Linked DNA regions of Homo sapiens. The protein of the gene in region 3 purifies or fractionates together with the protein of the main gene of each other region. This does not show direct contact. Each region holds a gene or a part of one and is shown on either strand. Other genes may lie near its edges. The genes, in order: PAPOLA, PTGES3L-AARSD1, TARS1, EIF2AK4, GFPT1, TARBP1 and NIBAN2.

What was found.
Region 1: the proteins of TARS1 (region 3) and PAPOLA fractionate together in Homo sapiens (co-fractionation; one large-scale study listed by BioGRID). This does not show direct contact.
Region 2: the proteins of TARS1 (region 3) and PTGES3L-AARSD1 fractionate together in Homo sapiens (co-fractionation; one large-scale study listed by BioGRID). This does not show direct contact.
Region 4: the proteins of TARS1 (region 3) and EIF2AK4 fractionate together in Homo sapiens (co-fractionation; one large-scale study listed by BioGRID). This does not show direct contact.
Region 5: the proteins of TARS1 (region 3) and GFPT1 fractionate together in Homo sapiens (co-fractionation; one large-scale study listed by BioGRID). This does not show direct contact.
Region 6: the proteins of TARS1 (region 3) and TARBP1 fractionate together in Homo sapiens (co-fractionation; one large-scale study listed by BioGRID). This does not show direct contact.
Region 7: the proteins of TARS1 (region 3) and NIBAN2 fractionate together in Homo sapiens (co-fractionation; one large-scale study listed by BioGRID). This does not show direct contact.

What each region holds. Positions count from the first base shown.
Region 1 is NC_000014.9:96,557,882-96,561,381, reverse strand, and holds part of PAPOLA (poly(A) polymerase alpha), read right to left. Parts: intron 734-3,500; coding exon 671-733; intron 1-670. UniProt on the Homo sapiens protein: Polymerase that creates the 3'-poly(A) tail of mRNA's. Also required for the endoribonucleolytic cleavage reaction at some polyadenylation sites.
Region 2 is NC_000017.11:42,977,729-42,981,768, reverse strand, and holds the start of PTGES3L-AARSD1 (PTGES3L-AARSD1 protein), read left to right. Parts: upstream 1-1,240; 5' UTR 1,241-1,586; coding exon 1,587-1,723; intron 1,724-1,756; exon of another isoform or gene 1,757-1,864; intron 1,865-2,105; coding exon 2,106-2,219; intron 2,220-2,324; coding exon 2,325-2,391; intron 2,392-2,500; coding exon 2,501-2,599; intron 2,600-4,040. Other genes in the region: RUNDC1 (RUN domain-containing protein 1), read right to left, coding at 695-1,192; putative protein PTGES3L, read left to right, coding at 1,716-1,723, 2,106-2,219, 2,325-2,391, 2,501-2,599. UniProt on the Homo sapiens protein: Functions in trans to edit the amino acid moiety from incorrectly charged tRNA(Ala).
Region 3 is NC_000005.10:33,457,965-33,461,464, reverse strand, and holds part of TARS1 (threonine--tRNA ligase 1, cytoplasmic), read right to left. Parts: intron 2,900-3,500; coding exon 2,801-2,899; intron 1,771-2,800; coding exon 1,604-1,770; intron 564-1,603; coding exon 401-563; intron 308-400; coding exon 170-307; intron 1-169. UniProt on the Homo sapiens protein: Catalyzes the attachment of threonine to tRNA(Thr) in a two-step reaction: threonine is first activated by ATP to form Thr-AMP and then transferred to the acceptor end of tRNA(Thr).
Region 4 is NC_000015.10:39,975,615-39,979,114, forward strand, and holds part of EIF2AK4 (eIF-2-alpha kinase GCN2), read left to right. Parts: intron 1-799; coding exon 800-1,230; intron 1,231-2,463; coding exon 2,464-2,533; intron 2,534-3,500. UniProt on the Homo sapiens protein: Metabolic-stress sensing protein kinase that phosphorylates the alpha subunit of eukaryotic translation initiation factor 2 (EIF2S1/eIF-2-alpha) in response to low amino acid availability.
Region 5 is NC_000002.12:69,324,728-69,328,227, forward strand, and holds part of GFPT1 (glutamine--fructose-6-phosphate aminotransferase [isomerizing] 1), read right to left. Parts: intron 2,349-3,500; coding exon 2,187-2,348; intron 1,507-2,186; coding exon 1,462-1,506; 3' UTR 1-1,461.
Region 6 is NC_000001.11:234,458,680-234,462,179, forward strand, and holds part of TARBP1 (tRNA (guanosine(18)-2'-O)-methyltransferase TARBP1), read right to left. Parts: intron 1,718-3,500; coding exon 1,582-1,717; intron 648-1,581; coding exon 551-647; intron 1-550.
Region 7 is NC_000009.12:127,513,574-127,517,073, forward strand, and holds part of NIBAN2 (protein Niban 2), read right to left. Parts: intron 3,447-3,500; coding exon 3,284-3,446; intron 1-3,283. UniProt on the Homo sapiens protein: May play a role in apoptosis suppression. May promote melanoma cell invasion in vitro.

The DNA.
Region 1 (3,500 bases), on a different chromosome or scaffold from region 3:
ATATCCATCATAGAAATCTGGATAATTTGGGAGAAGGGGGAGAATTTCCAATTTTTCCACAAGGAAAGAAAGTTAAAAGCCTTCAATAGATTTCAATTTCTAGGGAAAAAAAATGAGTCTTTTACATTTTGGGGAAAAAAAAATTTCTTCCACCCCATCTACACCTCATTCAAGCCCCATGTACCCCAGGTTCTAGCCAAAACCTTACGCCAAAAACTGCTTCTATAATCATAACAAATTCTCAACCCAAAGAGACAGATCATGATCTCAGCCCGGACTATCAAAAATCCTATGTATCCTTTGAGGACCACTTCAAATGCTACTTCTTTCTTCAATGAAGACATGTACTGCTATTTCTGCAGTCAGAAATAACATCTTACTTTTCTTGCCCCGTGGCCCCCAGCCCTCAATTACTTTTTCTTTGATAATGTAATTAATTACATTCATGACTTATCTTGTCTACTTAATTATAAGCTCCTTTAAAGGCACAGAATGTGTTTCACTCATCACAATATTCCCTTCAGTGTTCAGCATTACATAATTAACAGTAATAAACAATACTAAAAAAATCTAAAACCTATAGCACAAAAATACAATATTTTAGAGACATTTCTATTACATCTTCTGTACTCTTAATTGTGTATGTATTCTAAAGGCTAAATTAGTATACCTTTGCTTCTGTTTTATCATGTCCACTCAAAGCAAGACAGTTAGCATCTTCACTTGTTTCATCCTGTTTTTAAAAAAAAAAGCTTTATTCTCTAAAATGAAAAATTTAGATTATTTGCCAATCAATGCTTTACTTTATAAACTTTAAAACTATAAAATAATTAAACCTGTAAGATCAACTACAGCCTTAAAATAGATAACTGGTCCCTCTTTTAAAATGTTTTTATCAGATTAAATTTGGCTTCAGTAGCTAATAAAATTAAAAAGAGCATTAGGAAAACTGTTACTGCAGATCACCACCTAAAGTACATTTCCAAAACCACTAAGAGTTCATAGAAATATATTTTGTAAGGAAAAGAAAAAAAAAAAAGAGTTCCTGATCATACAACTTTAGGAACTTGGCATAGTATCACCCCCATTCTGGGAGATTCACACAGAGTGGCACATAAAAGGTTCTAATAAATTCTATCAAGAAAGAACTCCACTTTAATTTTCCCAAGCTTAACCAGAGAATCCTTGCTCTTGGTACGACCTACTAACATCCTACAGAATACAAGACTTGAGAAATGCCTTGCTTGGGTCTTAATAACTATTTTGACACTATTTTCTCAGCAGAATTAAAATTTAATTTTAAATGTGACTTTTAAAACAGGCATAGAAAAACCACAGGCTTATAGCTTAGAAGAGATTTAATACAGTATCGATCAATTCCAATAAGGACTTTATTTGTACCCTGCAAATATGCAAACTTTAAAAATAGTAATGTGTCACAATTGGCCAAATCTGAATACTGACTGATATGTAAAACTATGGATTATTAATATTTGTGTGACAAATATACGGTACTTATATTTTATAGAAGTCCTTATTTTTAGATATACAAAGAAATGTTTTTGGTTGTTATGCCTGGGGTTTGCTTCAAAACAATGGGGAAGGAAGTGATGTGGGTATGTAGATAAAACAAGGCTGGCTGTGAGTTGTTAACTGTTGAAGCTAGGTGATGCAAACATGACAGTTCATTATACTTATGACATGTTTGAAATTTTCCATACAGAAAGTTTTAAATATATACATATATACACATATATATATATACATATATATATGTGTGTGTGTATATATATATATATAGAGAGAGAGAGAGAGAGAGAGAGAGAGAGAGGTTAATTTAGCTATAATCCAGGAAATAGAGCAAACATTTTCGATTTTTATTTTACATTACCATTTATATTTATTTGAAAAACCTTAGGATATGATGACCATTAAGCAGAACTAAACTACCTCAGAGTATCTAAAACTTTCCTATCTATATACACGTTAGTGCATTACTGAGTGAGGCCAGTATTTCTTTCTGCTTTGCTAAAATTTCTAATACCAAGTACTCATTAGCAGAGAATAAAAGACCCAATTAAGAAGGGCTTCAAAATCAGGATTACTTCTACCACAGCAAATTTCTTTTGACTAAAGCACCATGAGATTTAGGCCTGGGTTCTAATCCTGCCTCTAACTGTAACTAGATCCGTAACTGGAAAAGCCACTAAACAGCAAGTTCTTCTGGTAGGAAATGAGATTAGCCCATGGAATAACCTAATACCCCTTATCTTCTTAAAATGCTATAGTTCTATTAATCAACTCCGTAGAAATACTGTAAGCAAAATCCAGACTGAGAAAACATACACCAAAAAAAAAAAAAAAATTACAGGGAAAAGTGGGGGAGGGATGGAGGAGGGAATCTATATTTTAAAGGACACTTAGAGATATCAAACAATTGCAACACAGGGATCTTTTTCTGCTTCCAGATTTAAACAAACAGCCTATTTTTTAAAAAATCAATGAAACAATCAGGGGCCATTTGAGCACTGACTAGATGTTTGATGATATTAATAAATTGTTAATTTTTGTGAGTAGGCTAATTTTACTGTTAATGCTTTCATTCTTAGATATGATTTTTAAGATTCTAATGAAACATGTTTGGATTTTGCTTTTAAGTAATTCAATGGCAAGAGAAAATGAAAAAGGCTGAAAGAATTAAGATTACAAAGATTGGCTGAGAGTTAATTATAACAGAAGCTGTGTGATGGGTACACAGGTACATAAAATGACTCTTTTATATGTATTTTTAATTTTCCATACTTAAGTTTAAAAATTCTATATTCTTATTGCTTTTCTAAACCAGACAAGAAACACAAGTGTTATTCTACCAAGGTAAGTGCAAACAAAATTGCAAAATACTGCACTAGTACAAACTTATTTAGAGCTCTTAGGGTGCCATTTTTAACATAAAGAAAACCAAATGTTAAATGCATAGAATTATGCTTAAATACACTTTACTAATGTCAAAAGAAATTTGAGTTCTGAAATGCCGTGACAACTTCAAACCAGTATCAGTAGTCTGAATGTGTAATTGACACAAAAATTGAGTATATTCTTTAGCTGCTGCACAACCCAATCATGTGGCAGCAGGGCTCTTAATAGGATCTCCAGGCCTAACTTCTAGAAGATCTCTGATTCAGTTTGGAGAAAGCCCTAAAATCTTTATTGAAAAACAACAACAACAAAAAAAACCCCAAAAACTAATTCTGTTGTACAACCAATGATGAAAATCACTGCCCTAAGAGATAATTACACAGACACAGATGAGTTTTCAGAACACATCTTCTAAGTTATGATTATTTACAGTGGGCCCTCCATATCTGTGGAATCCATATCTGCGAATTCAACCAACCATGGATCAAAAATACTTAGAAAAATAAAAAATAATACAACAATAAAAATGACACAAATTAAAAAATACATCATAACAACAATTTAAACAGCATTTACATTGTATT
Region 2 (4,040 bases), on a different chromosome or scaffold from region 3:
CCTGCACGGTGGCACACGCCTGTAGTCCTGAGGCTGAGGCGGGAGGATGGCTTGAGACCAGGAGTTCGAGACCAGCCTGGGCAACATACCAAGACCCTCCCGTCTCTTAAAAAGGAAAAATTCCAACATTAGGAAATTTATCTAATCAAGAGTTGTGTTTATTTCAGTTACTAAGAGACCCTGCTGTTAATCCAAACTCCCACCCAAAGAAGTGTAAAGACTGCCTAGATTTCAGGAAAGCAGGGACAGGGAGTTAACCTAAATTTCCACGGATTCCAACTCACTTTCCTTTCCTTTGCCAATTTTCCCAATCCCCAGAGTCGGGGTCCTCTAGCAGCCAAAGTGTTCAAGACTGAGATACGTGAGGGAAAGGTGAGTGGGCGCAGCACTGCTCTTGGCTGCTCTGCTGCCCTCTCAACGACTCACTTCGCTCACCGCTCCTCTACCACTCACGTCATCACGCACCGACATCTCTCCACATCCTCCGTGCACACCGCTCACCCTCAGGTTCCCAGGCCTCTGTCCTCTTGCCCTTCAGCCGGCCCCGCACTCCAGTCCCCTGGTCTCCGACACACGTACTCACCGACCGAGTCGGGGAGGCTTCTCCCCGCATGCACCATCATCCGGGTCTGGATCGCCACCCACACGACCCCACTATTCCCATATTCCTCGCGGCCCGGCTCCAGCCACTCACCTGGTCCTCGCCCCGCAACCATGGCCGGTCCCCTGGCAGCCCATCGCCCTCATCGCTGGCGGGGTCGCCGGGCCCTTCGTAACCTAGGACGTGAGGGCAGCCGCGGAAGGCGAAGTCTTCGAGCTCCCGCAGAAGGCGCTGCTGCTCCGCCGGCGCCCCGCGCACCACCTGGCGCAGGCGGAACTGCACCTGCGCGAAGTGCGAGGACAGCGCCAGCAGCGCCGAGTCCAGCCGCCGCCGCTCTGCCCGCAGCCGCCGCAGCGTCCGGCCCGGCGAATCCGGCGGGGAGCCCGGGGCCGCGCCAGGCTCCTCGGCCGTCGCCTCTTCTAAAAACGCGGTTGCCCCAGGCCGGGCCTCCGCCACCGCCCCCACTGGGGCCCAGCGCACCGCCTCGCACGGTGGCAGCGGCTCCTCTTCCTCCTCCTCTTCGTCTTTCGCCTTTGGCCCAACAGCCGCCACCACCGTTACCGGCTCTGCAGCCGCTTCGACAGCCGCCATCTTCCCGGAAACACCACCGCACGTCAGCCGCGCCCCCCTGCTGCCATGGCAACGGCGCGGTGGCCTGGAACCCCAGGGGAGTGGTGGGCGGGGCCTGAAGTACCCAAGTCCCCGAGGGCGCGCCTTCCCCGGGAATTTAATTCAGGACAATAATGTTTTATTGAGCGCCTATTGTGAATCAGACACTGAGCAGTAAGCGTCGGAGAAACAGGTGAATGATACCGGGGAAAAGTCATTCCCTGTGTGTAGCGTCTAGGGCAGCCTTTGCCCTGGTTCCAGCAGATGGGTTGTCTCTTCATAGTCTATGCATTTCTGAAGACCCCACGGTGAAGGGCTGCAAGGATGAAGCTGTCCCAGAGTATCTCCAGAGTGCAGATCCCTTGGCTGCCAGGTCATGTTCTCTCTTCCTCTCAACTGCTCTCCCGACCATATAAGGAGAGGCAGCTGCTGGGGGCGTCCCCAGGATCTAAAGATAGCGGCCCCTGCCTGGAACTCTAAATGCCACCCTGGAGCGGGAGCCGCAATGGCACGGTGAGTGTTTCCGGCTCCGGTGCTCCCCCTGGCCCTTTTCCCTGGAGATTCCCTGCTCCAAGTCTTCTGGGCGCTCCAGGTTCTGTGAGGCCCCACGGGAGCCCCGGACCCCTGGTCTCTGTAACTGTGGGGTGAGGGAAGGTGTGACCTGAATGTTCTCCCTGACCTCCTAGTTTCCTAGTCTTGCACGTTCTATTCTTCCCAGGTTCACATTCACCACACCCACCCACTCCTGTCATTCCCTTCCCTTTCACCCCTTCTGTCTCATTTAGCTCCACTTTGAAAAAACTGTGGCATCAAAGGTCCCTGGGTAGTCCCTTCCCAAATGACCTCAGTCTTCCCTCTCCCACCCCTATGAAGCCACACCTCAACTTCTCTTCAGGCAGCACGCCCGGACCTTGTGGTACGACAGGCCCAGGTATGTGTTCATGGAGTTTTGTGTTGAGGACAGCACCGATGTCCACGTGCTTATTGAGGATCACCGCATTGTGTTCAGGTAGTGGCCCTGCCGTCCGAGGGCCTGGCTTCCCAGGAATCTACCCCTTTCCTAATGTCCCCACACGGAGTATTCCGCATCTCCTCAGCTTCATTGTCTCCTCAGCTGCAAGAATGCCGATGGAGTGGAGTTGTACAATGAGATTGAGTTCTATGCCAAAGTGAACTCCAAGGTAAGGGTGAAATGGGACAGTAAGGTTTGGATGGAAACCGGGCTGCCCAGGGAAACTGGAGATTAATTCTAAACCCCAGACCCTAAGAATGAGGCTCTCTATCTGGCAGGACTCCCAGGATAAGCGCTCTTCCCGCTCTATTACTTGTTTTGTGAGAAAATGGAAGGAAAAGGTGGCCTGGCCGCGGCTTACCAAGGAGGATATCAAGGTGGGTGTGTGGAAAGTGGCCTGCTTCTTCTCTCCATGTACCCAGGTTACAGCTGGGATTGTCCTTGCCTCCTTTCCAGCCAATATTCAATCACTCAACAAGTCCTGCCTAATCTTTTTTTTCCAACTGTATTAGTCTCTCTTTTTATTTTTATTTATTTATTTATTTTGAGACGGAGTTTCACTCTTGTTGCCCAGGCTGGAGTGCAGTGGCGTGATCTCAGCTCACCATGGCCTCCGCCTCCCGGGTTCAAGCAATTCTCCTGCCTCAGCCTCCTGGGTAGCTGGGATTACAGGCATGCACCACCACGCCCAGCTAATTTTGTATTTTTAGTAGAGATGGGGTTTCTCCTTGTTGCTCAGGCTGGTCTCGAACTCCCGACTTCAGGTGATCTGCCCGCCTCGGCCTCCCAAAGTGCTGGGATTACAGGCGTGAGCCACCGCGCCTGGCTTATTTTTTAACTTAAAGTTCTGGGATACATGTGCAGAACATGCAGGTTTGTTACATAGGTATACGTGTGCCATGGTGGTTTGCTGCATCTATCAACCCGTCATGCAGGTTTTAAGTCCTGCATACATTAGCTATTTGTCCTGAGTCTCTTTTTACTCTCTTGGTAATCTCTCCCAGTTAACTTACTTTCGTTGTAGGTGATGAAATGTGTAAGACTCCACTTCAGATATTGGCACTGCTATGAACATGGTCTTTCCCTTTACTGCAACTCACAATCAAAACCTTTGATTCTTTTTGTGTGTGTGTTTGTGTGAGATGGATTCTCACTCCCGTAGCACAGGCTGGAGTGCAGTGGCGCGATCTTGGCCCACTGCAACATCCACTTCCCGGGTTCAAGCGATTCTCCTTCCTCAGCCTCCTGAGTAGCTGGGATTACTGGCTTGTGCCCCCACGCCTGGCTAATTTTTGTATTTTTAGTAGAGACGGGGTTTCACCATATTGGTCAGGCTGGTCTTGAATTCCTGACCTCAGGTGGTCTACCCGCCTCAGCCTCCCAAACTGCTAGGATTACAGGCGTGAGCCAATGTGCCCAGCCATTTCTTTTTCTTTTTTCTTTCTGTTTTTTTTTTTTTTTTTTTTTTTGATTCGGAGTTTCGCTCTTGTTGCCCAGGCTGGAGTGCAATGGCATGATCGCAGCTCACTACACCTCCGCCTCCCAGATTCAAGCGATTCTCCTGCCTCAGTCTCCCGAGTAGCTGTGATTACAGGCATGTGCCACCACACCCAGCTAATTTTGTATTTTTAGTAGAGACAGTGTTTCAACATGTTGGCCAGGCTGGTCTCAAACTCCTGACCACAGGTGATCCACCTGCATCGGCCTCCTAAAGTGCTGGGATTACAGCTGTGAGCCACTGCACCCGGCCTCTGCCAATTCTTGTTTTCTATATTCCAGTCCCAGAAGTAGTTTCCACTGTAGAAATTAATTGATGAG
Region 3 (3,500 bases):
CCATTTCAAAAATACACAATCATAAAGAAAAAAACTAGCTTACACAAACCTAGGAACCATTTCCAATTTCATTTTGCTTTTATCCATTTAAAGAGGCTTGGCTTTCTTACATCTCAGAACAAGCCAATTTCAAACAGTATTCAAAAGCACGCTGAAAAACACCACTTACTTTCTCAGCTTGATCCCATACTTCGATATCTCCAAGGAATTTTTCCGGGCGAGTAGAAAGGTTTAGTTTAAAAGAAAATCCAAATACGCTATATACCGTACGTAGAAAATCCAAACAACCTTTTATTTCATCTTCAATCTTCAAATTAAAAAACAAAAAAAGAAACAGTAGTTATTTTCCTTGACTTTCTTGACTCTTCTTTCTAAGTATTTTATTCCCAGGGTCTCATACCTGCTCCATGGCACAGAATATGTGAGCATCATCCTGTTGGAATCTTCGTACCCGGGTGAGTCCTGTGAGTGCTCCAGACAGCTCGTTCCTATGAAGTACCCCAAAATCAGCTAGCCGCAGAGGCAGTTCTCGCCAGGACCTTGGCCGATGATCAAACATAAGGCTGAAGAGAAAAAGAAAAGTCCACGGACACTTAAGAATAAAACTGCTTCTGTAATGCTATATTTAATTACACGAAAGGTTGTCAAAAAGCCACTGATTCTAGCTGTCCATCCAAGCAACATTTCTCAAATTCTGGGCTACATACAGCAGTAAAAGCACTTGCATGAATAAAACAGCAAATAAGTTATAACTCAATGAACCACAGTGAAGAATTAAAAAACGTATTCCAACAACTGAAGAATCTGGGAAAATTAAGAATGAACTTGGTTGGTCCCCTAGCCTATAATACAGCTTCTTCACAAAGATTCTTCTCTCACCTCCTCTGCCCTCCAGGCCTGGCTAGTAGGAGCTGCAGACACTAAGCTACCTGTATCCACAGCTCTCCTGTGTCTTCCCTTAAGCTGTTCTTCACCCAACTTTCAAAGATAGAAAGCAGAGCGGCCTCATGACAAGGAACATTTTCCAAGAATGCTGAGTCATTAGCAGGTTTTGACAGAACAGGTTTCTTTAAAACAACAACACACTAGGTAATTTGTTACACCCCCATATTTCATCTTCCTGTTTTATAGTCTGCCTTGGTCATTGCTATGATCCCAGTACCATTACTGAATGCCCACAGATCTGGAGATCTGGCTGGGCACAGTGGCTCATGCCTGTAATCCCAGCGCTTTGGGAAGCCAAGGTTGAAGGACCGCTTGAGGCCAGGAGTTTGAGACCAGGCTGAGCAACGTGGCAAGACCTCATCTCTACAGAAATAAAATTTTAAAAATTAGCTGGGCATGGTGGCATATACCTGCAGTCCCAGCTGCAGTGAGCTATAATCGCATACCTGCACTCCAGTTGGAAGACCTCTTTAAAAAAAAAAAAAAAAAAAGTGGGGATCTAATCAGGTGCAGAAGATATAATACAAAGATGTTGCGTTTAAATGCTCTTCTGATCACATAATTTGTTTTTAATGAAAATGTTGTTAAAGGAGGGAAGAACCCAGGATGAATTGTAGCATGTGAAAATCTTCAGTAGAAATTCAAAGCTGCCGAATACCAGTGTCCTGGGCAGTTCATGGGTTTCAGGGCAAACAGCTCCTTCTCCACCTCAAAGGAGAACATGTTCTCGCTGTAGTGCTGCCAGTGGCCCGAGGTCATCCAGAGTCGGCTGTTGAAGATGTTTGGGGTGACTACCTCCTGGAATCCTCTTTTCCTATATTCGCTCTGATAGAAAATAAACAGAAACATGTGTAGGCAAATAAATGCTCATACTTCAAGTGGGAGTAAAAACTTAAAGAGTGATTTTATACTCTCTCATGAAAAAGATGGACACATGCCATGATTCAGAAATCCCACTTCTAAGTATATACCAGAGAGAAAACTCTTGGCACATGTACCTAAGGAGGCTTATAAAAGTGATGCTACTGCAGCATGGCTGATAATAAGGGACAATTATACATCAGTGTCCATCAATACAGGGATGAGTGCATTGTGGTAGTTATATAACAAAATAATATGTAGCAAGTGAAAATAAACTTGATTTGCATGTCTCTAAAAATAAATCACAAGGCAGTCTGATACACAATGAGGCTTCCTATATGTAACACACAAATACATAAATAATTTAAGGGTACAAATACATGGGCTAGATATAAGTAACATGGACAAAAAGAATCCATGCCAACTTCAAAACAGTAGTTTCTTCTAGAAAACTGGTATATGATATACCAGTATATGGATATATATACCAGTATATGGAGGTATATGGATCAAAACTGGGTCCTAAAGAGAGGCTTTTTAAACAACTAATTTTTTTTTTAATATCATGAATGAAAAAATCTCAAGCAAATATAGCCCAATGTGAATATTTGTTAAATGTGGGTAGTTAAGTACAAGATATTGGATATACTATTCTCTATAAACTTATACTTGAAACATTTCATAATTTACAAAGGAAAAAAGCAATGTAAAAACCGTTTTTTCAAAGAAAATACAAATAAATGATCAAAGTCAAAGAGGGCACAGAGCTCCTATGTCAAGGACCACAGGTCCCCCTTCAAGCTCACCAGTTTCTATGTGTATATGGGCAAAATCAACTATTAGGGATGATTTATGAGGCCACAGACTTCTACTTTTACTTATCGTCTTATATATTTCTTCTCAAATACAGATTATCTTTCCTTTTAGTAGACCTTATTTAATAAAATGATCACATATCCTAAATCTAAAGAAGAAAGCAATAAATATGACTTACCCTAATGAATTCAATAAGTGCATTATAAATGTAGGCTCCTTTTGGCAGAAAAAAGCAACTTCCAGGGCTGAGTTCATGAAAGAAATATAGTTCTTGGTCCTGGGTAAAAGAAAAGCAAAAGAATGTTTATGTACGTCACGTATACGTGTGTGTATATATACATAAATTTCAGTGTTCTTGAGCTCAGAATATGGTCATGATGTCCCATATTTCAATCAGTGCCACTCCTGAATCAAAGAAACCATGTCAGTGTTTCTGATGTTATAGAATTGCAGCTGATTTACAATTTGGCAGACGTGTAACACATGCCCTGCCTGTTATATTCCTCAATCCAGTCAAGTTTCCCCAACAGTGGCAGGGAATAAGGGTCCCTTCAGTTCTTTAACTATCCACTGCAGTACCTCTCATGGTTCTTAAATTCCTTAAAGCTCCAAGATCTGGATCTTTTTTCATTTTATTTATGTATGTATTTATTTTCTTAGTAAGAGTATCAGGAAGGAGACTGGGAAAAAGACACTGATAATGAAATAGATGATGGTAAAGTTGGCTGACTTTGGGTCATGGTGAAAGAAACACACCCTCCTACCTCCTTGCCAACATCCGCCTCCCCAAGTGCCCAAAAGCCCTCAGGGAAGGGCCCATCAATCATTGCTGGCTGCCTCATAGCTGGAATGTCAGGTAGTCAGGGGTGCAAGGCAGT
Region 4 (3,500 bases), on a different chromosome or scaffold from region 3:
CATAAGGATGCCTCTATGTAGGATGGGAGGACTTGCCTTTGCAACGTTTTCTTGCTTTCTTATTATTTTACTGTGTTGTTAATTGTATTGTTCTGGTTTCAGTATACATCATCTTAGGTATATAACAAAATCAATGGGCAGTGATTGTGTTAATAGCAATTGCTGTTATTGACTAAGCTAAGCACCTTTCTCTGTGAGGCCTTGATACAAGTGCTTTACAGTCACCATTTGGGGTAGTGGAAATGGTATAAATGCCATTTTAAAGATAAGAAAATTGAGTCTCAAGGAAATTAAGTAATTTTCCCAAGTTCACACGGCTTTAGAAATCAAGGAATTAACCTTTGTGTTCAGGTCTGTTAATATTTTTGGTGTTTAATTTGTTTTTAGTGACTTTAAGTGTAAAAAAAAATCAGAGAGAAACTAAAATCATCTGAAACTTTACACTGACTTTAGAAAATAATTTTTAATCTTAAAATCAAGACACTTAGAAATTTAGATAGCAGATACATTGGAAAAGCAGGGAGGTAACTGTCAGTAAAATTAATTATTAAAATGGAGATTATGTTTTCCCCAGGGTCTCCCAGCAAGCTAAATATATCTAGAGTCGGGTGGGCTGTTTTCTGAATTTTGTGGCAGTCAAAGCTTTCTTCAGTTTAAGAATTTCAGGCATGTGGTTCTTGACTGTAGCTGTGGGACTCATTTAGAACTTCACGCTTTCCTTGGGAGGGGATGGGGTGCGGTGCAAATGCCTGTTTGTGCAAGGCTCCGAGCGGCTGACCTTCCCCTGGCTGTGCCGCAGGTGCAGAACAAGTTGGACGGCTGCTGCTACGCAGTGAAGCGCATCCCCATCAACCCGGCCAGCCGGCAGTTCCGCAGGATCAAGGGCGAAGTGACACTGCTGTCACGGCTGCACCATGAGAACATTGTGCGCTACTACAACGCCTGGATCGAGCGGCACGAGCGGCCGGCGGGACCGGGGACGCCGCCCCCGGACTCCGGGCCCCTGGCCAAGGATGACCGAGCTGCACGCGGGCAGCCGGCGAGCGACACAGACGGCCTGGACAGCGTAGAGGCCGCCGCGCCGCCACCCATCCTCAGCAGCTCGGTGGAGTGGAGCACTTCGGGCGAGCGCTCGGCCAGTGCCCGTTTCCCCGCCACCGGCCCGGGCTCCAGCGATGACGAGGACGACGACGAGGACGAGCACGGTGGCGTCTTCTCCCAGTCCTTCCTGTAAGCGCACGGCGCGGACCAGCTGCCTCTGATGCGCCCCCTAGTTTCCTTTCTTTATTTTTTTTTCCTTTTTCCTTTCATTTCCTTCCTTCCTTCTTTCCTTCTTTTCTTTCTTTCCTTTTTTGAGATAGGGTCTTGCTCTGTCACCCAGGCTGGAGGTCAGTGGCGCGTCCTTGGCTGCAACATCCGCCTCCCGGGCCAGCGAATGCCCCCCAACATTAATCCCCACCAAGTCCAAGCCAGGGAAAAGGGGATTCATTTAGAAATCCAGACGTGTTGACCATGTTTAAAAACAAAAACAAAAACAAAACAAAACCACCACTTTTAGAGAGTAACCAAATGCAATCTAAAGGAGCGGTCCCCAGCGTTTTTAGGCACCAGGGACTGGTTTCATAGAAGACAATTTTTCCACAGACGGGTGTTAGGGAAATAGTTTCGGGATGAAACTGTTCCACCTTACATCATCAGGCATTAGAGTCTCATAATGACTGCTGAAAAAGCGCACAACCTGGATCCCTCGTGTGCACAGTTCACAATAGTGTTTGCGCTCCTATGAGAATCTAATGCGGCTGCTGATCTGACAGGAGGTGGAGCTCAGGCCTTAATGCTTGCTCACCTCCGGCTGTGCGGCCCTAACAGGCAGTGGACCTGTACCTGTCCATGGCCTGGAGGTTTGGGACCCCTAATCTAAAGGATTTTTTTTCCCGCTATTTTCAAAAGATCTCCAAAATCCAAGCCATGGAAAAAGGAAAATTCAATACCTCATCTTATACATTGAATAGAATTTCTCATAGGACATTCCTTTGGATAAGGGCTTGCAACCCTGTGAAACATTTAAGAACTAATTTGGAGTCTTGATACAGTGCCAACTGCAGCCCCCAAAGGTACCAAACCAATAATTATGATCCTAAATTTTATGCTTCTCAGAATCCACCCTGGATGTTTACTTTCATGATTTTGTTTTATTTTATCCAAGTGGATACAGTTTATGATTACTCTTCACTATTAAATTTTTTGAGGAAACTTAATCTGGCTAATTTTTATTAAATCAAGGGTTCTGTGTTTTGCATAATAGCAAGTACAAATCAGCACAGTGTAGAGTATACATTGATGCCTGTGGGCTCATGGTGTGATGTCTGTAGCCTCTTGTGCTTTCTAGTATTTAAAAATGTCCATGTTTATAATGATAATAGGGATTTCTGTTCCTTTAGTATTTCTGTTTCCCTTTTTCAGGCCTGCTTCAGATTCTGAAAGTGATATTATCTTTGACAATGAAGATGAGAACAGTAAAAGTCAGAATCAGGTATATATATGAATAGAAATTATATCATTTTATTCGTGATATAATTGACGTCTGATGTCATAAACCTTAGGTAAAGTATTAAGGCTTTAATCTGATATTCAGATATAGAAACCATAAATTTTAAAAGATGATTATTCATTTAAAATATATTCTACCTGTGTTTATTTATAGACCTTCTTTATTTATCCACATAGTAAAACATACCTCCTTTTAGAAGAGAGGAGTCAGTTGAGACACTGCATTTTTGTATGTGATGAAAACAGTTTTCTAAGGGTTTGGGAAACTTTATATGGTTGGGGATAAGAATTGAATGCAAATTAATGAACTAGATTTGCATTTATGGAGTTACCTCATCATGGAGTTACCTTGGTCTGTCCCACGTCAATTAATCTTGATTCCTTATTTTCATAGACCATCCTCTAGAACAGTGTTTTCACACTGTGTATCGTGATCCTATAATGCAGGGGTGTCCAAGCTTTTGTCTTCCCTTGGCTACACTGGTAGAAGAATTGTCTTGGGCCACACATAAAATATACTAACACTAATGATAGCTGATAAGCTAAACAAACAAAAAAATCACAAAAAATCTCATAATTTTTTTTTGAGATTGTGCTGTTTTTTTAGTTGTGTTTTCAATGGAGAAATACATCATCTGTTGACAAAATAGCTTTTGAAAAATACGAGTACAGATACTATAAAACAAAGCAAACTTCAGTCGTGAGACACTACATACATCATGTGAAAGCAACAGTCTGATCTCCAGGTTGTGAAAACTATAATTAAAAAGTCACTACACAGAAAAGATCCAAGTTTCCAGGTTGGCAAAACTTCGGTGCAGTTACATGAAACGTTTAACAAACTGATTTGTTTTCCCCAATGTGTAAACAAAATGACAAGACTAAGTCTGTGCCTGGTAATTTCAATGTAACTCTGAAGCTACACAAAACACACAGACACCTTATACACT
Region 5 (3,500 bases), on a different chromosome or scaffold from region 3:
ATAGCTTATCTTCACAATTTAAAAGTAAAAACCTTTGAAAAAGAAGGACTTCACCAAAAACAAACACACTCTCCTATAGCCCTGAAGATCTGGCCAGAAAAGCTCCATTAAGAAATTATTACTCACAATTTTGGGGGTATCAAATAATAACATTCTACTTTAAATATTTTAATCCAAATTGTCAACTTCCATTTCTGACACTTACAAGCTGAACATACCCCAATATCACTTTATTTATATCTTCTTTATTCCTAAATATATTTCAGGGGTAGAGCACAGAAAATACAGAAGAGGAAAAATACTTAGGATACAATACTAAATTTGGTGCCTATCAGTGTAAAGCATACATACCTTTTTCTGAGCTTAGCCTACCACATATACTTAGAGTGAAATGATGAGGTCAGCGACCTGCAAATCTTCCAAACAATTGCAAGTAACTTCCAAACTGGCACTAAGGGACTAGTTTTATGCAACAATGTAATGAAGGAAAGTTAAAATTAACTACAGGAAATTCTTCCTCGTGACAAAGTTGAAGAGAATACTGAATATATCAATATTAATTTAATAGCAGCTCTGTGTTGTGATTTTAAAGAACAAGATAAAATATGTCATTCAGCAGTCATTTAAAAAATAAAAGACTACAGATACAAGGAAATAAAAACCACTTTTAGGAGATGAAAACACAAAGTAGTAGGATACCCAACATGTACACATCCCATCTTCAAATTTAAAATCATATTGTCAGTTGTCCAAAGCAGCTTGAATTTAAAGTTTGTGCTATAAAATTGTGCAAATATGTTAAGGATTGAGACCCACCAATGCACTACTGTAATATTTCGCTTCCTAAATTTCTTCCACCTACAGATAATAGACAACAAGTCTGAGAAACTAAGGCTAACCAAACTTAGATATAAATCCTACCAATAAAATTTTTCAGTTTTAAGTTTTACAGTTTGATTTAAAAACAAAACAGAAACAAATTTCAAAATAAATCACATCTTCTCTTAAAACTTGGCAAACCCTTCCCTAACTGTCCAAGTATGAGCATACACTGCCACTGGCTTTAGATACTCCAATTAAATGCACTACTCTTTCACTGGTCTGAATGAAGTATGGTGAAACAAGTACCAATTTTTAGAAACATATTGTCTTCTCAGATTGAAGTGGAGGGTCCAGAAATGCAACACCCAGCATTCTTTAAAGAAAATAATAGCTAGAATCTTTCTGATACAGATTCCAATATAGATTCCATTATTCAAAGTCCTCCACAAATTACTGGGAAAATGTAAGAGGTAACTTCACAAAAATCACATATTGAGTGGAATAATTATAACTGATATATAAATAAGGATTTACTAAAAAAAGGCTTCAAGGGGTGATATTTTAAATCAAGGTTTTAAATACAAAAGGTGTCTTGTGTTGCTTAATCATACAGTTTCGTACATTTTGTATAGATATTCCTCACTCTACAGTCACAGATTTGGCAAGATTCCGTGGGAAATCAACCTGCAAAAAGAAAAAAAAAAAAAGCAAGATTTGAGAGATTATATAGACTGGGGAAGGGGGTGGTTACTATAAGCAAATTATTTTTGTTTATAAAAACAGAAAACAATACATTCATTAACCATCTTTATTACAGACTACAAAGAATTAGATTAGAAAATATAATCACATAATGTGTCCTGAAAAAAACTGAAATTGGTTAGGAAAAAGCATTCTAAAGGTGCCAGTTCACACAGAAAGAGCTACTGTGGTCCTCTACAGAAGTAGTAGCCCTCATAGGGGACACTAAAAACAAAAGCACTATGTTTTGGTTGCCACAATGGCTGAGAAACCAGGAATGCTACAAAGTCTTCAATGTGTGGGACAGTTCCAAACAAAAAAGAATTGTCCTGCCAAATGCCAATAGCTGCCCTGTTAAGAGATAGAGGTTATATTAAGAAAACAGGTGGAGACTACCCAAGGTGAGTCACAATCTTGGAGGTGAACCCCAAGGTTCCTTCAAGTTCTATGGGTAAGAAGATGTTGTGATGTAACCTACAAATTGGGCCATGAAAATATAACAGGTGACAGATATATATTTGATAGATTTCTCAAACACTATTGTTAAAAATTTAGGAGAAAAAAATCAGAATGTATCCAGGTAAAAAACCATCCCAAGATTTCTGCAGTGGTAGATGACTTACATCATAGCCTCTCAGCACAGCAAGGTGGAAAGCCAGCAACTGTAAAGGGATCACGCTGAGAATGCCCTGCAAGCAGTCCACTGAGTGGGGCACCTTGATCGTTCTTTTTGTGTTCTTAATGGTCTCAGTATCCTCCTTATCACAAATTACCACAGGCCGCCCCTAGGAAAGAAAATCACACACATACACAACATCACTGGTGGGCAAAGGCAGGGCTATAGCTTACGAATGTGCAAAAATTGCACTGCATAATCCATATGAAGCCTCACGGACAGACTTCTTTAAATTCCTGTGTAGTAAATCTGATTGTTATTACTTATAGTCGAGGAAACAGAAGCGTTATGGGATCCAGTAATTTGTTTAAACTCATGCAACTAAGAAATACCAGGCTTAGTACTTGACTGCAGGTTTGCCTAACTTCAAAGCTCAAGTTCATTACCACCACATTGTGCTTAGGGAATAATATCTTTTGGAATTTATATATAAAGCCAACTGATCTGAAGAAAACTCAATTATATAATATTAAAATAAAACCTAGATGTTAGATTTCCCCTGAAATATATCGCGTGTGTGTAATTTTTTTTAATTTATTTTATTTACTGTTTTAGAGACAGGGTCTCACTATGCTACCCAGGCTGTATTCAAACTCCTGGACTCAAGTGATCCTCCTGCCTCAGTCCCCAGAGTAGCTGGGACTACAGTCATGTGCCACTGCAACCAGCTGAAATATATATTTAAAAATATTTTAAAATACATTTTTAAATGTTTTAGAAGTATTAAATTAAAAAGGAACAGCATATGTTAACTAAAAGAAGACAGGATGTGGAGACCAAGACCTCAGTTCTGGTCTTGGTTCTGCCCAATATGAGATCTATGACCTTGGTCTTCTTAAAGCTCTAAGTATCTGGGCCAGGCGGGGTGGCTCATGCCTGTAATCCCAGAACTTTGGGGGGTTGAGGCAGGTGGATCACTTCAGGTCAGGAGTTCGACACCAGCCTGGCCAACATGAAACCCCATCTCTACCAAAAATACAAAATTAGCCAGGCGTGGTGGAGTGTGCCTGTAATCCCAGCTACTTGGGAGGCTGAGGCAGGAAAATTGCCTGAACCCAGGAGGCAGAGGTTGCAGTGAGCCAAGATTGTGCCACTGCACTCCAGGGTGGGTGACAGAGACTCCATCTCAAAAAAAAAAAAAAAAAAAAACTCTTAAGTATCTGATTCCTCACATGTAAACCTCAAAGGCTGTATTCCAAAGTAAATGAGTTAACACGTGTAAACATGTTTTGTAAGTCATTCAAATAAGCTAGCGTAACTC
Region 6 (3,500 bases), on a different chromosome or scaffold from region 3:
ACACACCATATATATTCCTTGAATGTCGATACAGGGGAAGATGAGGGGAAATGTAGAGAGGGAACAAGGCATACGCTCCAAGAGTCCTCTCCCAGTGGGCCACCCAGGACACACTTAGCTCCCCCAGCAACAAGCTGTGACAACACAGTGAAAGTCTGTCTACCAGGGAAGCTCAATGGAGACTCAGTGCCTCGGGCTTTTCCTGGGACGTGGTCATGCAGGCACCTTTTGCCTCATACATACTGAAATTCCAGACTCTCAGAAAGAAAGCAGGTTTTCAGCATAAACCACATTGAACAAACACTTTAGATACAATAAGCCACTCTTAGCAGTTAGGATAGTGTAAATCCTCCCAAAATCCAAGGTCCCAGTGCCAGCCAAGGACTATTTAGAGAGATCATATGTATTATTTTATTACAAGCACATTTATTATTTTATTACAAGCAGGCCTTTCTAATGGCAGTATCACAGGTCTGCTATGTTAACTCATTTCTGTACACCCACTCACTAAGAAAGACTTGTAAATGGAAGTAACAAAAGAAAAACTTACCACATCTAGCAAATTCATAGCTGTTTGAAGAAGGTAGCATTGGGCTGCCCCTCTCAGGAGAATCTGATGTGTGATCATAGTGCAATGAATAACATCCCTGACATCGAAACACAAAAAATGCAGTTCCGTATTCCCAAAGACAATTCTGATAATTTGTGATTATCAACAAGTTGATTTATAACAACTACACTTCCTAATGCAGAAAGTCTGCAGAATTTCAAAGCTGTTATTTCCCATTATGGCCTCTATTAAGAGCTCAATTTTACTATGAAACAAGTCTCTTTTAAAAATAAGACTATAGGCCGGGCGCAGTGGCTCACACCTCTAATCCCACAACTTTGAGAGATTGAGGCGGGTAGGTCACCTGAGGTCAGGAGTTTGAGACCAGCCTGGCCAACATGGTGCAATCCCGTCTCTACTAAAAATACAAAAATCAGTCGAGAGTAATGGCGCACACCTTTAATCCCAGCTACTTAGGAGGCTAAGACACGAGAATCGCTTGAATCCAGAAGGCAGAGGTTGCAGTGAGCCGAGATCGCACCACTGCACTCCAGCCTGGGTGACAGAGCGAGACTCCAGCTCAAAAAAAAAAAACTATAAATGAAGATGCTTTTAAAGAAGTTTATATTTACTGAAATACTTTTTCTTTTTTTCATCTCCTCAAAATTCCTTTTTACCAAATATTTTTTAAATACTTTCTGTTAAATATTATTGTTTGATATTTTATCTTTAGCTTTCTACTTACGAATGTAATTTTAAAAAAAACTTACTGGCCTTATTTAAAGAGGTCAAAATTCAACAGCACATACTTCAGTACACATTTAAACTAGTAATTTGTAAAACAAAATAAGTTCAACTATACGAATAATACATTTTTTAATTTTTTTCTTATGTAAAATTAAGAGCCCAAACATCCCAATCCCAATATTAACTATATCCATTTACTGTAGATTAAAGCAGAGGAGAAAATATATATATTGATGGAAAGTCATGGCAAATAACCATACAAGTACATATACAGAGTAAATTACCTGAGAGCAAGAAGCCCATCTATACCCAGGGCCTTATGTCTTGGGACATTTGCCAAAGCCTTAGATAGAAACAAAATGGGAACAGCACACCAATGCCTACTTGTCATCTTCCGAATAAACTTCAATAGGAAGCTACCTGAAAGAAAAAGTTTTAAATTATCATTGTTGCCAATTAGCACATGAAAAGAAGCTCAATACCATTAGGTATTAGGGAAATACAAGTCAAAACCATAGTAAGGCTCCACTTCCCACACACTATGATGGCTATAATCTAAAGGACAGACAATACTCAGAGTTGGGGAGGATGTGGAGAACCCAGAACCCTCACACAATGCTGGTGGGAATGTAAAACGGTGCAGCCGCTGTGGAAAAAAATATGGCAGTTCCTCCAAAACTTAGACGGACCACATGATCCGGTAATTCTACTTCCAGGTATATATCCAAGAGAATCAAAGATGTGTTCATACAGAAACTTGTACATGAACATTCATAACAGCATTACTCAAATAGTCAAAAGTGAAAACAATCCAAATGCCTACCAATGAATGAATGAACAAAATGTGAAATATCTATACAGTGAAATACTATTCAGCCACAAAAAGGAATGAAATGCTGATACGTGCCATAACAAGGATAAACCTTGAAAATACTATGCTAGTGAAAGAAGCCAGACACAAAAAGCCACGTATTGTATGATTCCACTGACATGAAATGTTGAGAATATGCAAATCTATAGAGACAAAGAGGATCAGTGGCTGCCAGGAGCTATGGGTAGAAGAGAATGAGAAGCGACTATTAACACACCTGAGGTTTCTTTTTGAGGGTGATCAAAATATTCAGGAATTAGACAGTGGTAACAGCTGTACAACTTTGTGAATACACTAAACACCACTAAACCAAATGGTTTAAAAGGGTGAATTCTATCTCAATAAAGCTGTTGTAAAAAAAAGTTAATTTAATTCCTAGTTTAGTAAGATAAGTATTCTACTGTACTATAGGGATTCTGATACCCATGAAGCTGTATTTTTTTAAAAGGTAATTTTTTGTTTGTTTGTTTGTTTTGAGACAGAGTCTCACTCTGTTGCCCAGGCTGAAGTGCAGTGGCTTGATCTTGGCTTACTACTACAACCTCCACCTCCTGGGTTCAAGTGATTCTCCTGCCTCAGCCTCCTGAGTAGCTGGGATTACAGGCATGTGCCACCACACCCGGCTAATTTTTGTATTTTTAGTAGAGACGGGGTTTGGCCATGTTGGCTGGCTGGTCTCAAACTCCCAACCTCAGGTGATCTGCCCACCTCAGCCTCCCAAAGTGCTGAGACTACAGGCGTCAGCCACCACACCCGGCCAGTAAAAGATAAAATTGTTTATGATTAGAAGCCATTCTTCTATTTGAGATGTGAAGGAAAAACAGGATAGGAAGTATTGATGGTTAGTGGCCTCTAGTATATGCAAACAGTAACATCTTTCTCATAGGCTGTTTCTTGACTACCTTGGATTTAATTACGATTATTTATATTTCTATTTTGAGATACAAAGGGATAGTGCTTCATTCTGTCCTCTCTGCTAATCTGTGATTTCTTAAGGACCCTCATCTCATGTAGTTAGTGAAAATGTCTGTTTTCTCACATAGTTGTAGAATGACTTTCAAGAAATCCTCAGAAGCTACTAAAAGGATATTACGCGGACTTTGTGTCTTTTGAAATACCTAGCACAAAAGACATTCAGAACACCCAGAAGATATTCACTGGAAACTGGTGACTGAAAAATGACTAAATAACTGTGAATGAATGTTTTAATTGCTCTTTTTGAACTCCTGGCCTCAATTTTTCTTTCTTCCATTTGCACTAACTAAATTCAGTAAATCCCATCTTTTGCCTAACGCTTCACTCATGACACTAGGAAGATGGCAATGGCCAAGT
Region 7 (3,500 bases), on a different chromosome or scaffold from region 3:
CCTCGGTCGTCCTCACTGCTACACTCCCGCCAGCACCATGACAGGTTACAGATGCCATGGCAACGTCAGGAAGTCTCCCTATATGCTCTATCTAAAAAGGGAGGCATGAATAATCCACCCCTTGTTTAGCATGTCATCAGAAATAACCATAAAAATGGGCAACCAGCAGCCCTCGTGCTCTGTCTACGCAGTAGCCATTCTTTTATTCCTTCGCTTTCTTAATAAACTTGCTTTAACTCTATGGACTCACCTTGAATTCTTTCTTGCCCAAGATCCAAGAACCCTCTCTCGGGGTCTGGATCGGGACCCCTTTCTGGTTACAGAATGAATAAGCCCTAGTATTTGATAGCGCAACAGGGTGACTATAATCAATAATAATTTAATTGTACACTTAAAAGTAACTAAAAGAGGCTGCACAGGTGCAGTGGCTCAGGCCTGTAATCCCAGCACTTTGGGAGGCCGAGGCAGGAAGATCACTTGACGTCAGGAGTTTGAGACCAGCCTGGCCAACATGGTGAAATCCCATTTCTACTAAAAATACAAAAATTAGCCGGGCGTGGTGGTATGTGCCTGTAATCCCAGCTACTTGGGAGGCTGAGACAGAAGAATCACTTGAGCCTGGGAGGCAGGGGTTGCGGTGAGCTGAGATGGCACCACTGCACTCCAGCCTGGGCAAGAAGAGTGAGACTCTGTGTCCAAAAAAAAAAAAAAAAACTAAAAGAATATACTTGGATTGTTTGTAACACAAAGGATAAATGCTTGAGGGGATAGATACCCCATTTCCCATGATGTGACTATTACACATTGCATGCCTGATCAAAACATCTCATGTACCCCATAAATATGCACACCTACTATGTACCCACAAAAATTAAAAATGAAAATGAAAATAAAATAAAATAAGAAAACTGCCAGCCCAGAGGTGTCAGCAGTGTTCTGCTTAGCTAGAAGTAGACAAAAACTCCTTTAGGATGGGTCTTGCTTCTTCGTTTGAACAAAAAGAACAACAGCAATGAAAAATACCTTAGTAGATTCAATGAGCCTCTTGGTTTTACAAAAACTGGGCTGATCCTCTCTGGAATAGTGTGGCTGGCTCTGCATAATTATGTAAAAGCCTTCTTCCTTTGGGTGGGGACCATCTCCAGAACATTCTGACCAAAGCATTTTCACTCAAGAATATTTAGATGTCCACCCCCATCCCAGCCCAGCTAACGTTCTTTGTTCCACACAAGAAATGTCAATGCTCAGTGTCCTATCCAGCTGTCAACCAATACTCAGGATCTGGCTAGTAAAGAATAACCTACAGGAGACCAGGCACGGCCACTCATGCCTGTAATCCCAGTGCTTTGGGAGGCTGAGGCAGGAGGATTGTCTGAGGCCAGGAGTTCGAGACCAGCCTGGGCAACACAGTAAGACCCCCTTCTCTCTCTCTCTTTCAAAAATTTTTAAAAGAGATAGAGTTTTGCCCAGCCAAGACCCCTTTCTCTACAAACAATTTAAAAATTAGCCAGGCGTGGTGGCCTGCACCTGTAGTCCCAGTTACGCAGGAGGCTGAGGTGGGAGGACTACTTGAGCTCAGGAGGTCACGCAGTGAACCATGATTGTACCACTGCTCTCTACCTGGAAGACAGAGCGAGACTCTGTCTCTTAAAAAACAGGCCGGGCGGCCAGGCGCGGTGGCTCACGCCTATAATCCCAGCATTTTGGGATGCCGAGGTGGGCGGATCATGAGGTCAGGAGATCGAGACCATCCTGGCTAACACGGTGAAACCTTGTCTGTACTAAAAAATACAAAAAATTAGGTAGGCATGGTGGCGGGCGCCTGTAGTCCCAGCTACTCAGGAGGCTGAGGCAGGAGAATGGTGTGAACCCGGGAGGTGGAGCTTGCAGTGAGCCGAGATCACGCCACTGCACTCCAGCCTGGGCGACAGAGCGAGACTCCGTCTCAAAAAAAAAAAAAAAAAAACAAACAAAAAAAACAGGCCAGGCACAGTGGCTCACACCTGTAATCCCAGCACTTTGGGAGGCCGAGGCAGGTGGATCACTTGAGGTTAAGAATTCAAGACCAGCCTGGCCAACATGGCAAAACCCTGTCTCTACTAAAAATACAAAAATTAGCTGGGCATGGTAGCAGGTGCCTGTAATCCCAGCTACTTGAGGGGCTGAGGCAGGAGAATTGCTTGAACCCGAGAGGCAAGGTTGCAGTGAGCCCAGATTGTGCCACTGCACTCCAGCCTGGGCAACAGATCAAGACTCCATCTCAAAATAATAATAATAATAATGGCTGGGCACAGTCGCTCACATCTGTAATCCTAGCACTTTGGGAAGCCAAGGTGGGTGGATTGCTTGAGCTCAGGCATTTGAGACCAGCCTGGGCAACATGGCAAAACCCTGTCTCTACAAAAAATACAAAAATGTGCTGGGCGTGGTGGCACATGCCTGTAGTCCCAGCTACTTGGGGGGTTGAAGTGGGAGGATGGTAGAGACTGCAGTGAGCCAAGGTCGTGCCATTGCACTGCAGCCTGGGCGACAGAGTGAAACCCTGTCTCAAATAAAATAAAATGAAATAAAATAAAATAAAAAGAACGTCCCATGGGCAACTGACAATTGCTAAAACTGAGCTCTGCAGATGTGTTATGGGGACCAAGCTGGTGAAAGGATCCCATCTGGCTGGGAAGAGAAAGGCGTACAGTCTGGGCACAGTGGCTCATGCCTGTAATCCCAGGACTTTGGGAGGCCAAGGTGAGCGGATCACGAGGTCAGGAGTTCAAGATCAGCCTGGCCAACATGGTGAAACCCCATCACTACTAAATACACAAAAGTTAGCCGGGCATGGTGGCGCGCGTGTGCCTGTAGTCCCAGCTACTCAGGAGGCTGAGGCAGGAGAATTGTTTGAATCCGGGAGGCGGAGGTTGTGGTGAGCTGAGATCGCACCACTACATTCCAGCCTGGGTGACAGAATAAACTGACCTGGGAAAGCTATACTTGCTGAACGTAAATGTACTTTAAAATGACACATGGTAAAAATCTGTGACGAGTCAGAGATGAAAAGAAGGCTTGAACCTCCAGAACAAAAATTTTTCTCTTCAAGTTCTGGGCTTATAGAAATAATAGCCACAAAACAACTCACAGGGGTTGGAGTACCACAGTGCAGATTTGGCTCTAATTCTTACAAATGATCAATGAGCAAGTCATTGCTGTGAAATTTACATGAATCATGAAATAAAAAGAAAGTCCACCTTGGCCCCTGGAGGGCCCGTCGAGCACGGGGGTGGCTGCCTACCTCGGATCTTGCTGGCAAGGTGCTCCTTGGAGGTGATAATTTGGTCCATGTCAGTTCGGATGACGGCCTGCATGGCCGGCTGCACCTGCTGCACCTTGGACAGCACCTCCTCGAAGCGCGCCTTGGCCTGCTCGTACACCATGTGGTACACGGCGTCCGAGATCTGTGGGCAGAGCAGCTGAATTGGCACCAGGGCTGAGGGCACCGCACCAGCTGC